Linked DNA regions of Homo sapiens: all the other regions are linked to region 1. Evidence: fine-mapped expression QTL. A gene starts in region 1. Each other region holds a variant in brackets. All regions are shown on one strand. Distances are between the middles of the regions. Region 1 holds the start of LRP8 (LDL receptor related protein 8). Region 2 overlaps LRP8 (LDL receptor related protein 8). Region 3 has its middle 39 kb from the start of DMRTB1. Region 4 overlaps LRP8 (LDL receptor related protein 8).

Region 1 (2,606 bases):
TCCGGTTCAGTCTCCCCAGCATGGTGCGCCTTCCTCCTCCGGCACACTGCCCGGGGCTCCGCCCCGGCCCCACCAGGACACGCCAGCTTTCCTGCCCGCTCCGGGTCGCTAAGAGCCACCCGGCCCCGAGGGAGGCGGTGCCCAGGCGGTTTCCCGGTCGCAGGCTCCGGCGGCAAGTCCCGCGCAGGTGGCAGCGCGGCGGCTGCAGCCACGTGCGCGCCAAGCATGGTGCCCCCCACCGTTCCTTTTCTCTCCCCGGGTCTGAGCTCCCTGGCCCGCCACTCACGGCAGTCGTCCTCGTCGCTGTGGTCTAAGCAGTCATCGTCCTCGTCGCATCTCCACACAGAGGGGATGCAGCGCTCGTTCCGGCACTGGAATTGGTCCTTTTCGCAATCCTTGGCCGGCCCTGCGAGGGGGAGGGAGCGTGAGCTGGATCAGCGGACTCGGCCCCACTCCCCACCATGCAGTCCGGGCCACCCGGAAGGACCCGCTGGGGAGGAGGAAAGGGGGCGATTATGGAGACCCCGGGGGCTTCAGGCACACTCCATCCAAAGGGAGGGCACGATGGCAGGGGTTCCGTGGATGTCGGGCCGCTCGGTGGCACGGCGAGACCAGGCACCTACTTAAAGTGTCACACGACCTGGGTATACCCTCCATTCAGACGCACTCACCCGCACACGCGACCCATAGTCAGAGATCTGCTCAGATACAGCCCATAGGGAGTCCCCGCGCCCGCGCGCCAGGCGCAGTGGGAGCCGCAGGCACATCACCCTGGCAGGCAGCCCCCTCTCTCTCCGCCGCGCGCAGGGGTCTGCGGAAACGCATTGTCAAGCGGAGAAGCCGCCCGGCTCTGCTCATTACCGCCGCGGAGCGCGCGTGTCAAATAAACCCCAACGGCGAGAATCACACAGCTCATCCGGAACCATGAATGGCCGCCCCTCCGGCAAAGTTCCCCGCTGGCCAAGCCCCCCTGCACCCCTCCCCCAAGATCCGCTGCCCAGAGGGCAGAGCCCTCAACACCGAGGCCCGCGGGGGCGGGGGGCCGAGGGCAAATTCAGGAATAGCCGCTTCGCGTGGAGCCTGTCCGCCCGGGAGCCCCCGATAGCCCCGGGTTCTGGACCCCTCCCCGCTCCGGCCTCCCGGCCGCGCTTTGTTGGTGGCTAGGGCGGAGCAGAGCCGAGTCAGAGACCGGCTGCACGCACCTTGGCCGCCGAGCAGCGGATCAGCCGCTGCCGCCGCAAGATGCTGGAGCTGCAGCAGCAGCAGCAGCAGCAGCAGCAGCAGCAGCGCCAGAAGCCGGAGAGGGCCCGGCTCGGGGAGGCCCATGGCGGGCCCGGGGCTCCGGCCGCCGCGCCCCGCGCTCCCCGCGCCGCCGCCGCCGCGTCTCAGCCCTCCGAGTCCTTGCCGCGGCGCCGGGGTTGCCGCTGCCCCCGCCGCCGCCGCCGCCGCCGCTGCCGCCCGCCCCGGCTCCTCGGCTGCATTTCAAGCAGGTTCGGTGACGCTCGGCGGCGGGGCGGGCTCAGGCTGGGCGCGCGGCCCCGGCCCTGGGCGGCCGCCGCCAGCGCGCGCGCTCCCTCCCGCTGCCGCCTCCGCCCCACGCTCCCCCTGCCGCCGCCTCCTCGCCCTCCTCCCTCCTGTCTTTCGTCCACTCTTCTCTCAGCGGGCGCTCCACGGCCCTGCTCTGGGCTCGCCTGAGTGCTGGGCTCTGCAGACGCAGGGATGGGCCAGGCGAGCCCCTCACCACGGAGGTAGCAGGTCCAGAGGAAGCAGCAGAGGCTTCCTGGAGGAGGTGACAGGCGGATCAGAGGCTGAGGGATGTCTAGGAGTGAGCCTGGGCGGGAGGGGAAATGATGTTACAGGACGAACAGGCCTGTGCAGTGTGCGCGTGGGGCGGGGGAGGGAGGGATAGGGGTGAGATCCCAAGATGTGGATGAGCAGGGAGAAGCTGGGGGCGCAGGGCTGGACCCCTGCACCTGTCATGGGCTCCGGCTGGGATATTATAAATCCCTGTGGCTGGTTTGGTTTCCGTGCCATGTGCATCTGTGCATGTTGCACGCTCATGTGATCATGGGGACGTGAGGCAGGTGGATTGGGCCTGGTGCACAGACTATTCATCGTCGTTAAGTACGCTCCAGGCCCCTAGTCAGAGGGGCAACCAGGGGGGGCCCGCAGGGAAGACAAGGAATCCTCGCTGTGATGGAGAAAGACGAGGTCTGTGGGGCGGGCCGGGCGGGGGGGAAGGGGAGGGCACGGAAGGGATGCCATCCCTGCCGCTAGGGGCCGCGCACCTAGGCCCGCGCTGTCCGCCCCTGCTGTCTTCTGCAGGAAGGAGAAGGCACCTCTTCCTCTGGAGGGCTGCAGCCCGCCTCACCCACACTGGGGAGAATGGGTGCGGAGAGCGAGCTGGGATTCGATTTCAGCCTCAGACTTGTGAGCCGGGTCCAACCCACACAACCTTCTTTAGAGAATGAGATTCCAGGGCATTGGCCACTCAAAACAACCGGCCTGCAGGTGCCAAGAGCCAGTGTTAGGTCCACCCTCCCTCCCCTCTTGCCCCTTCACCTCCCTCGCGGATGGGCAGGTGCTGTTAGCCCTTGGCCTGGAAA
Region 2 (2,500 bases), 22 kb before region 1:
GAGGTGGCCATGTCTCCAGGTGTTGGTTCTGGCAGGGCCGGGGTTCAGGGCTCTGGCCGGGACCACCCACCCATCTGAGGCCAGCCCCAGGGCCAGCAGTATGGGGATGGTTCATGGCCACAAGCCCCAGCTCAGCACCTCCAACCAGAGCTGGGCAGAAGGGGACAGACATGGCTGTGGGAGGCAAGAAGAGGAAAGGTGTGGGGTCATGTGCCCAGCAAACCCTCACCGCCCACTGGCATCCTGGCCCAGACCTCAGCCACACCGGCCACTTCTCAGAGCCCCTTACAGAGGGGTGCCCATCAGCCTAGGGGTTCTGAGCCAGCATGGCTCCCCCAGTAAGACAGGTCCCACTACAGCTTGAAGAGGAAGCCACTTTTAAACAGCCTGCCCAGTGAGCACTGCTGGCTGCCTGAAGATGATTCCACTCACCTTGGTTTTTCCTGCAAGTGAACCTTCCTCCCAGAACTAAGGTTTGGAAGATCCCAGTCTGCTGCCTGACATGGCCATTCTCCCACAAAAACAGGTGAAGGAACGCAGGACTCAAATCACGCCTTTGTCCCTTACTAGCTAAGCGACCTCAGGCAGGCTACCTGACCGCTCTGAGCCCATGTTTCCTCATTTAAAAATGTGGTGGTAGATCCTGACTCGGAGGGCAGTTGGTTGCTAGATCACGTCTATCAGTGCCCGACATAAGGGATGGCACACAGAAAATATTCAGTGACCGAAGTTCCTCCTCCCTTTATCCCAGCCGCTGTGGCAGCCCCACCACCAGGCTTTGTACACAGTGAGTCCTTAAGAGGTTTTTGTTGCAATTTTTAAAGGGCATCTGGAGGCCTAGCCTCTGTCATCCTGGGCCACCTGGTTCTTCTGTGACTTGTTTTCTCCATGTATAAAGTAGAAGGCCTGTTCCTTGGAGAAAAAGGTCAAGGCGGGTGGAATTATTACCTGGCAGCCAGCGGGGCTCACAGTGCAGGCTACTTCAGAAGCCTCGTCCCTGGCTAACACCACAATGGTTATAACGCCAAGCGGGGCAGCTGAGACTGGCCCACCTGGACACACAGGCAATGAGTGGAGGTCACAGGAGGTCTGGCCACCAGCTTCCCTGCACCTCCACCCCTGCCCCCACACTAGTCTCTCCTCAGCCCCACAGGGAGCCAGGGGCCTCTAGAATGGCCTCTCCTCCACCCACGTGCATGGGCCCTGGCACAGGAGAGGCGCTGAGGAGGAAGCTGGAAGGCACCCAGCCACCCA[C/T]TCCAGGGTGAACGGTGAGCCTGCCCAAGCATGAGCTCTTATGAGGCCCAGACTGCCAGGGGGCCAGGGTGTCTGAGGCGCACACATTCCTCACTCTCTGGGAGTTGGGAGTGGAGGACCCTCCTCCCCTTCTCTATTCTATTGGGAAGCTTTCCACGACCCCATGTGGGATCAGAGACCTCTTCTGATCCACAGCCTCATCATCCTGTGTTGGTGGCACTCAACCATCTTTCTCTACCAGACTAGCAGCTCGGTGGAGGCAGGCACTGAGGAAGCGTGTGCTGAAGGCATCGCATGCAGGCAATCTGGAAGCCTGGGGCTTTTCCATCTATACAGAATGTACAGCCCAGGACACAAACCCTATTTACCCTCCAGCATTCTGCATACCTAGGAAAAGCAGTAATCATTGAAGCCTTGCTTCAGATCCTCCATTCATGCAGGAAGTGGGGCTCTGGTCTGTTCTAGTGCTGTCTAGCTGGGTGGCACTCCCACATCCTTTTCTCCAGGCATGTGAACTAGCTCTTGTGTCCTCTTTCTCTTGCCAAAGACAGTGGTATGGTACCAAGGAGAACAGAGCCAGGGGCCAGGAGGCCTGGGTTTTGGTCCCAGCTCTACCCCCCGAGCTGCTGCGTGGCTTTGAGTAAGCCACTCCCCCTCTCTGGGCCTCAGCGTCAACACCAGTTGAGGGGTTGGATCCCACTGCTCCCTGGGTCTGTTCCTGCTTTACTTCACTGCCATGAGCCATGTGTCTGGGGCTGGAGTTGGAGGAGAGTGCTGGCACCAGGCAGATGGTTCTGAGGACAGGTTCAGAGTCTGCAAGGCTGGGAGGGCACCTGCCTCTGTCCTGGGTCCCACCTCCTGGCCTGCTCCTCAGGAAACCCTGGGACACATGAACTTGGGCCTCAGCTTTGGCTCTGATCGTATTGTGATGCCATCTCTGGGCCAGGCCCTCATCTGTCTACATCACCTCACCTCATCTCCTGGTTTACGAAGCCCTTTGTATATGTCTCCTCATTTAGTTCTTACAATCACCCCTGAGGTTCAGAGAGGGACAGGATGGGCCCAGGTCACACAGCAGTCAGAGGACTATCAGGCCCAGCATTCTCCAGCAGCCCTGATATCTCCTCCTTGAAACAGGAAGAACACAGGATGTGCAGTGGGAATCCTGACCTTGCCCCCTGAGCAATACTGAGTAGGGGGGGTGGTACTCTCTCAGAACCACTTTGAGCCACCATGAAAATCTAAC
Region 3 (2,755 bases), 170 kb after region 1:
ACCAAAGGATGAGGGTCAAGGTGGAGGAAGCAGGACTCGAAGAGGCAGCTTGTTCCAGGAGAAGGGAGAGCAATCTTTGGGCCCTGCAGACCTGGTCTGGCACTCTGAGCCTAGATTCCCTCTCTCTCTCTCTCTCTCTCGTTTAAAGAGTGAATGAGTTAACATATGTCAAGTGGTTGGCACATGGAGGGGCTCAAAAAAATTCCTGTTGTCATGAGCAAGACCTGGAAGTTGGGGAGACCAAGGGAGGTTCTTGGCCAATGGATGAGGGTAGGCAGCATGGACTGTAGAAGGTCTCTTGACCTTGGAGTGATGGCTTTGCCTTCGGGCAGCCTAGGCCCATCAGCTGGCAGGGTCACATTCTGTCTCTGTTTCTGGCAACAGCAGGATTTTCCCTCCCTAATTATCAACCTACTTGGGGAGATGCTAAAAGTAATGCCCATTCCTGGACATATGTCCAATTGTCAAGAGGGCACTGTGGAATTAACTATTTCGTTAGCACATTAAGTGCACAGAGAGAAATTAAGAAAAAAGACAGAGATTTGCAGGCTATGGGAAGGGAGGCCATGTTGGGGGCACTTCTGGGTGCTCAGCCCTGAAACACGCTTGCAGGAGCCTACCTTGTTGAATGGGTGTAAGAAGACCTGGAGCAGCCTCCGACTCTTCTTAAAACACAGTGGAGTATGACAAATTGCTCAACTGCTGAATCGACAGATGGAGACTTCTTCCCCTCTCCCACTCTGTCCGTGGCTCTCCAAGGTCACCAAATGCTGCCACTCCTGGTTTCTCATGTCCTCTTCAACACAACATCATAGTTTTCCATTTCTCAGTTGAAGACACTGAAGCCCAAAGAGGGCATGCGACTTGTCTAAGGCTGCACAGCCAGAATTTTTTTTTTTTTTTTTTTTTTTTTAATGAGACAGGGTCTCCACTCTCAGGCTGGATTGCAGTGGTGCAATCACAGCTCACTCACTGCAGCCTTGACTTCCCAGGCTCATGTGATCCTCTCACCTCAGCTTCCTGAGTAGCTGGGACTATAGGCATGCACCACCACATCCAGCTAGTTTTTGGATTTTTGGTAGAGATGGGGTTTCACCATGTTGCTCAGGCTTATCTCAAACTCCTGGGCTCAAGCCATCCACTTGCCTTGGCCTTCCAAAGTGCTGGGATTACAGGCATGAGCCACCACGCCCTGCCTCCAGAGCCAGAATTTGAATCAAGGTACAAGGCCCTGGGTAGACAAGCTGGGATGTGCTGACTAGTGAGGCCTCTGCCCAAGACAGCATGGGGTGGTTTGAGCACTGCCCTGGGTGTCCTGAGACCAGACCCACCACCAAATGGCCATGTGTCCCCAGCAAGTCAGGCCATCTCCCCGGGACTGTTTCCCCACTTGTACCATGGAACTTGATTTCAAATCATGAGGAGAATGCTTAGGGCACTCATCTAAATGGGCAGTCCTCGAACGAAAATACTCACACCTGAGCACCTACTATGTACCAAGCCCTCACTCTAGCGCCCCATTTGATCCACCCACCAATAGAGGAGGCATCGTCTCATCTTACAGAGTAGAACCTCAGATTCAGTGAGGTGACCTGCTCAAGACCCCAGTCGGAGCATGGCTGCGTGGGTTTTGGAACTCAGATTTTGGGAACTCTGGAATCCCTGCTGTCAACACTCTGGGCCTCACCAT[CT/C]TTTTTTTTTTTTTTTTTTTTTTTTTTAGACAGTCTTGTTCTGTTGCCCAGGCTGGAGTGCAGTGGCTTTATCTCAGCTCACTGCAACCTCCCCCTCACAGGTTCAAGCGATTCTCATGCCTCAGTCTCCTGAGTAGCTGGGACTACAGGCATGTGCCACCATGCCCGGCTAATTGTTTTTTGTAGTTTTAGTAGATGGGGTTTCGAGATGTTGCCCAAGCTGGTCTCGAACCCCTGAGCTCAGGCAATCCACCCTCCTCGGCCTCCCAAAGTGCTAGGATTACAGATGTGAGCCACCTTGCCCAGCCTGGGTCTCACCATCTTTTGAGAGCCACCAGCTCCCTGACCCTGAGTTTCCCCATCAGTAATAGAGCAGTGTGTGCCTGTTGCACTCCGGACACCTGGGCACAGAGCCCCCAGGAAACCCCAGGCCCCGTGGAGATGGCTGCAGCACAGCCTGTGTCTTGCTTGGCGAGGGACGGTGTCTGGGCCCCGTGGAGCCTGTGTTCCTGGCATTCTGCCCTGCATGGGGCTTAGTGACTGCCCCCTGGGGCTGCTCTCCACCTCCCACCCTTTCCTTCCTAGCTGGAGACCCCCACTCACTTCTCCACTGGGGGCTCAGGCTCCAGCTCCTCACCCCGGGCCCCACCTTGAGTTGCTCCCCGTCTAGTGGCTGTGGTTTCACTGACACAGAGGAAACCACAGATGAAGGCGAAGTGCCAGGCTCCAGTGATAATACCAGCTCAGCTGCACATGGCCTTTCATGGTTTGCAAAACCCATCTCCTGTCCATTAGTGCTTTTTATTCCCCAGAAGCCAGGAGAGCTAAGAGGATAGCTCCCTCTCCACAGATGGGGAAACCAAGGCCCAGAGTGTGAAGCGACTTTCCTCCAGTCAGTGGTATAGGCAGATTGTAAACAGGCTGACTTCCAATCCCAGGGTCTCAGCTCAACTTGGCATGTGCCTCTCACCTCAGGAGTTTGGGGACAGCAAAGTTCTGGGGCTCAGAGGGTGGCCAAGGGCATGGGCTTTGCAGTTGAGAGGACGTGAGTTCAAAACCTGGCT
Region 4 (2,755 bases), 35 kb before region 1:
AGCAGTCAGAGACATTAGATAAATGAGTGAGCATGGTTATGTTTCAATAAAACTTTATTTACAAAAAACTGGTGACAGGCCAGGCCTGTGGCCTGTATTTTGATGACCTCTGCTCTAGATCATCACTGATTGCGAGTCCAACATGGTTTGCTTTCTTCCCTGTCCCTGCAGCACAGAGACTGTCAAATTCAGCAAGAATCCAGCTTGGGGTAGGTCTCAGTGCGGGACACTGAGCTAAATGCGAGCACAGCCCCCCAGCCTCTGCTCCATACTTACAGTTCTGGGGCTTGCCTTCTCCCTGGGAAGCCACTCCCATGGACCACCTTTATTCAAATCTACCCACAGGCCCTCTGGGTGCTTCTGGGGCTGCAGGCCTGCTCCCCCTCCTCTGGGGAGCCTGGCAAGGATTTGGTGAGAGAGACTGTGTCTCTGAATCTGTTCCATGTCTGTCCTTCTCAGTGGAATCTTTGCAGTACATCTGCATTCTAAGATGAGTTTTCTTCACACTTTGCTTAGAAGAATGCCTCTGTACGTGCAGAACTAGAAGAAACCTGAGGAATCAGAGTCCACCTTCAGATGGGTAGATTGAGGCCCAGAAAGGGAAAGGGGCTGGCTGAGGGAAATACAGCATGGCAGGGATAAGAACAGCTCTCCTGCCTCTCAGCCCAGGGCTCTGGAGAGGCCCTCCCTGTTTCCTGCACTGAGAGGTCATCGTCAATGATAGATGCGAATACCACCTATTGGTAAATCATAGTCCATAATCATCTTAAAGTAAGTACCAATATGAACCACAGCACCTGGGGAATTTCCTAATGTGAACACCAGTGGTTTTCCCCCCACAAGAAGCTCAGCATCCAAAAAAAGAAACGTATATCCTAGTTTTCTCTTTTTCTCGTTCTAACACTCACTAGGTGCTTCCTCTGTGCCAGTCTCTGCCAGGTGTTTTTACCCAAGAAACCTCATGGCAGGGGGCCTGCTATGTACTCATTTGACATATGAGGAAATCCAGACCCAGAGATGTTAAGTTACATGTCCAAGGTCACAGCTGGGGGGAGCAGGGTCACAGTCTGAACCCACAGTCAGATGCCTGCTCATCTCCACCACGGCTCCCCAGTCAAACATTCAGCAGTACCAAATGTGGAAGAAAAACCTTACAGCAGGTGGGAAAGCCCTGTGCAAGCTTCAGTTCCACATTCAATGAACCTTGCTTCTGTTCTACGTTCTGCACTGAGAACACAGAATCAGCCCAGCCCAGTCTCTGGGAATTAAGAGCAAGTAGGCAAGTCTGGCAAGGATGTGTGGTCAGACAGTGCCCAAAACAGCAGGGCAGGCTTGAAGAAGGTGATGATGGGGCTCTGTTGCTGGGCACAGGACAACCAGATACCCCCCAAAAACCCTGCCCTCCCTGGGATTCTGAAAGCCTGGGGGTGATCTTGTCCTCCTCCATGTGCCAAGCCCTGGCAGGCACTGGGCAAGGAGGCCAGAGCAGCCAAAAACACCACTGCTGTCCCAAAGGGCAGCTTTGAGGTCAGCCCCGCCCAGGAAATGGCAGCTGCAGGGAGAGTGGTGTTTTTGGCAACAGATTCGGTGGTGTTTTTGGGAACAGATTTGTTCACTGGCTGGACCAGCTTGGAGATTTTCCACTCT[G/A]GCTCTGGCCTGGCACCTTTCACCCAATATCCCAGTGACTCCTCACAGCTATCTTGGTAGCTGTTGTTATTAATCCCATTGTACAGAAGAGGAAATTAAGGCTTAGAGGTAAGGGTGTTAGGTGGCAGAAGTGTGATTTCAACTGTGTGTGGCAGCTGCCAAAGCTTGATCTCTTTCCACTCAGACCCTCAGCCACCTCAGTGTTACCAGGCTAAGAATGAGGACCCCAGAGAGTCCTCAAATGTACTGAAACATCTCTCAGGTCTCCTGGAATGTGCCCAGAAGTGTGCAGCAGAATAAACCCAGGCCTGGGACGGCTTTTGCTCTGCTAATGGACAGCACTTTCAGGGTGGGGACTAGACTAAAGCACGCTGGAGGGCCCCATTGGAAGTGTGACCATATGGAAGGATCTGGAGTCAGAGTGGAGACTGACTCCTGGCATAGCCACCTCGGGGTGAACCTGGGCAAGTGGGGATGTGGCTTTCCCATGCAGCTTTGTCACAAGGACAAAAGGCAAAAAGACTCTTCTGGGGGATCCTGGTGAACACCCAGTGTCAGGCCGTTCAGTGCAATGAGCCCAATAGTCCCTCGTGAAGAGACCATATCAGCCCTGCCATGAGATGAGGGCTGTGCCGCCATTCTAAGGCTGTCAGAGAAAGCCATGCCAGACCCCTACTCTGCTGGCCTTGGCTCTGGTTCCCAGGGTGATTCCCCAGCTGGGCTCAAGGCCATGGCTCCCTGTTTCCAGGGATTTATGTCCCCCCATGCCAGTCTGCCCCTTGGACAATGCCCACCTCTGTGAGTCCCTCAGCCCAGGAGTGATACATAGTCAACCAGGGTCTGCGACATCATAATCTGGTGCCATGGCAACAGATGGGCTGCCACAAAGGACTAGGGGATTCTAGGGGCAGTGAGGAGGGGCTGACCCCAGGGTAGAGTAGGGGAGAGTGGGAAATCCAGGACAAAGGAAGTGGGAAATGCTATTTATAACAAGAACACGGGCCAAGGAAAGTGCCAGACAGTCCATGGTCTATCAAACTGCGCCCTGCCACTTGTAGGCTATGTGACCTTACACAAGTTACAGGACTCCTGTGAGCCGCACTTTCTT

Evidence for each region.
Region 2: its variant is fine-mapped to the expression of LRP8 in lung (TOPMed, PIP above 0.99). The same link has a PIP of 0.9 or more in thyroid.
Region 3: its variant is fine-mapped to the expression of LRP8 in monocytes after LPS (Quach 2016, PIP 0.95).
Region 4: its variant is fine-mapped to the expression of LRP8 in breast (GTEx, PIP 0.98).

What each region holds. Positions count from the first base shown.
Region 1 is chr1:53,326,587-53,329,192 of GRCh38, forward strand. It overlaps LRP8 (LDL receptor related protein 8), which reads right to left and starts at 1,484. Exons shown (of 19, transcript NM_004631.5): 1 at 1,203-1,484; 2 at 287-406. The coding sequence starts at 1,326. It overlaps LRP8-DT (LRP8 divergent transcript), which reads left to right and starts at 1,647. Exons shown (of 3, transcript NR_131923.1): 1 at 1,647-1,789. RefSeq lists silencers at 91-150, 171-465, 981-1,150, 1,201-1,350, 1,421-1,620 and enhancers at 531-640, 1,691-1,920.
Region 2 is chr1:53,304,638-53,307,137 of GRCh38, forward strand. The region is part of intron 2 of LRP8 (LDL receptor related protein 8); the gene reads right to left. The region is part of intron 4 of LOC105378726 (a long non-coding RNA gene); the gene reads left to right. Among named protein-coding and RNA genes, the nearest start is that of LRP8, 22 kb to the right of the region's middle. The variant C/T (reference allele first, on the strand shown) is at 1,255.
Region 3 is chr1:53,496,542-53,499,296 of GRCh38, forward strand. No RefSeq gene overlaps it. Among named protein-coding and RNA genes, the nearest start is that of DMRTB1, 39 kb to the left of the region's middle. The variant CT/C (reference allele first, on the strand shown) is at 1,691.
Region 4 is chr1:53,291,753-53,294,507 of GRCh38, forward strand. All of the region lies in intron 2 of LRP8 (LDL receptor related protein 8), which reads right to left. It overlaps LOC105378726 (a long non-coding RNA gene), which reads left to right. Exons shown (of 6, transcript XR_007066090.1): 3 at 1-2,755. Among named protein-coding and RNA genes, the nearest start is that of LRP8, 35 kb to the right of the region's middle. The variant G/A (reference allele first, on the strand shown) is at 1,648.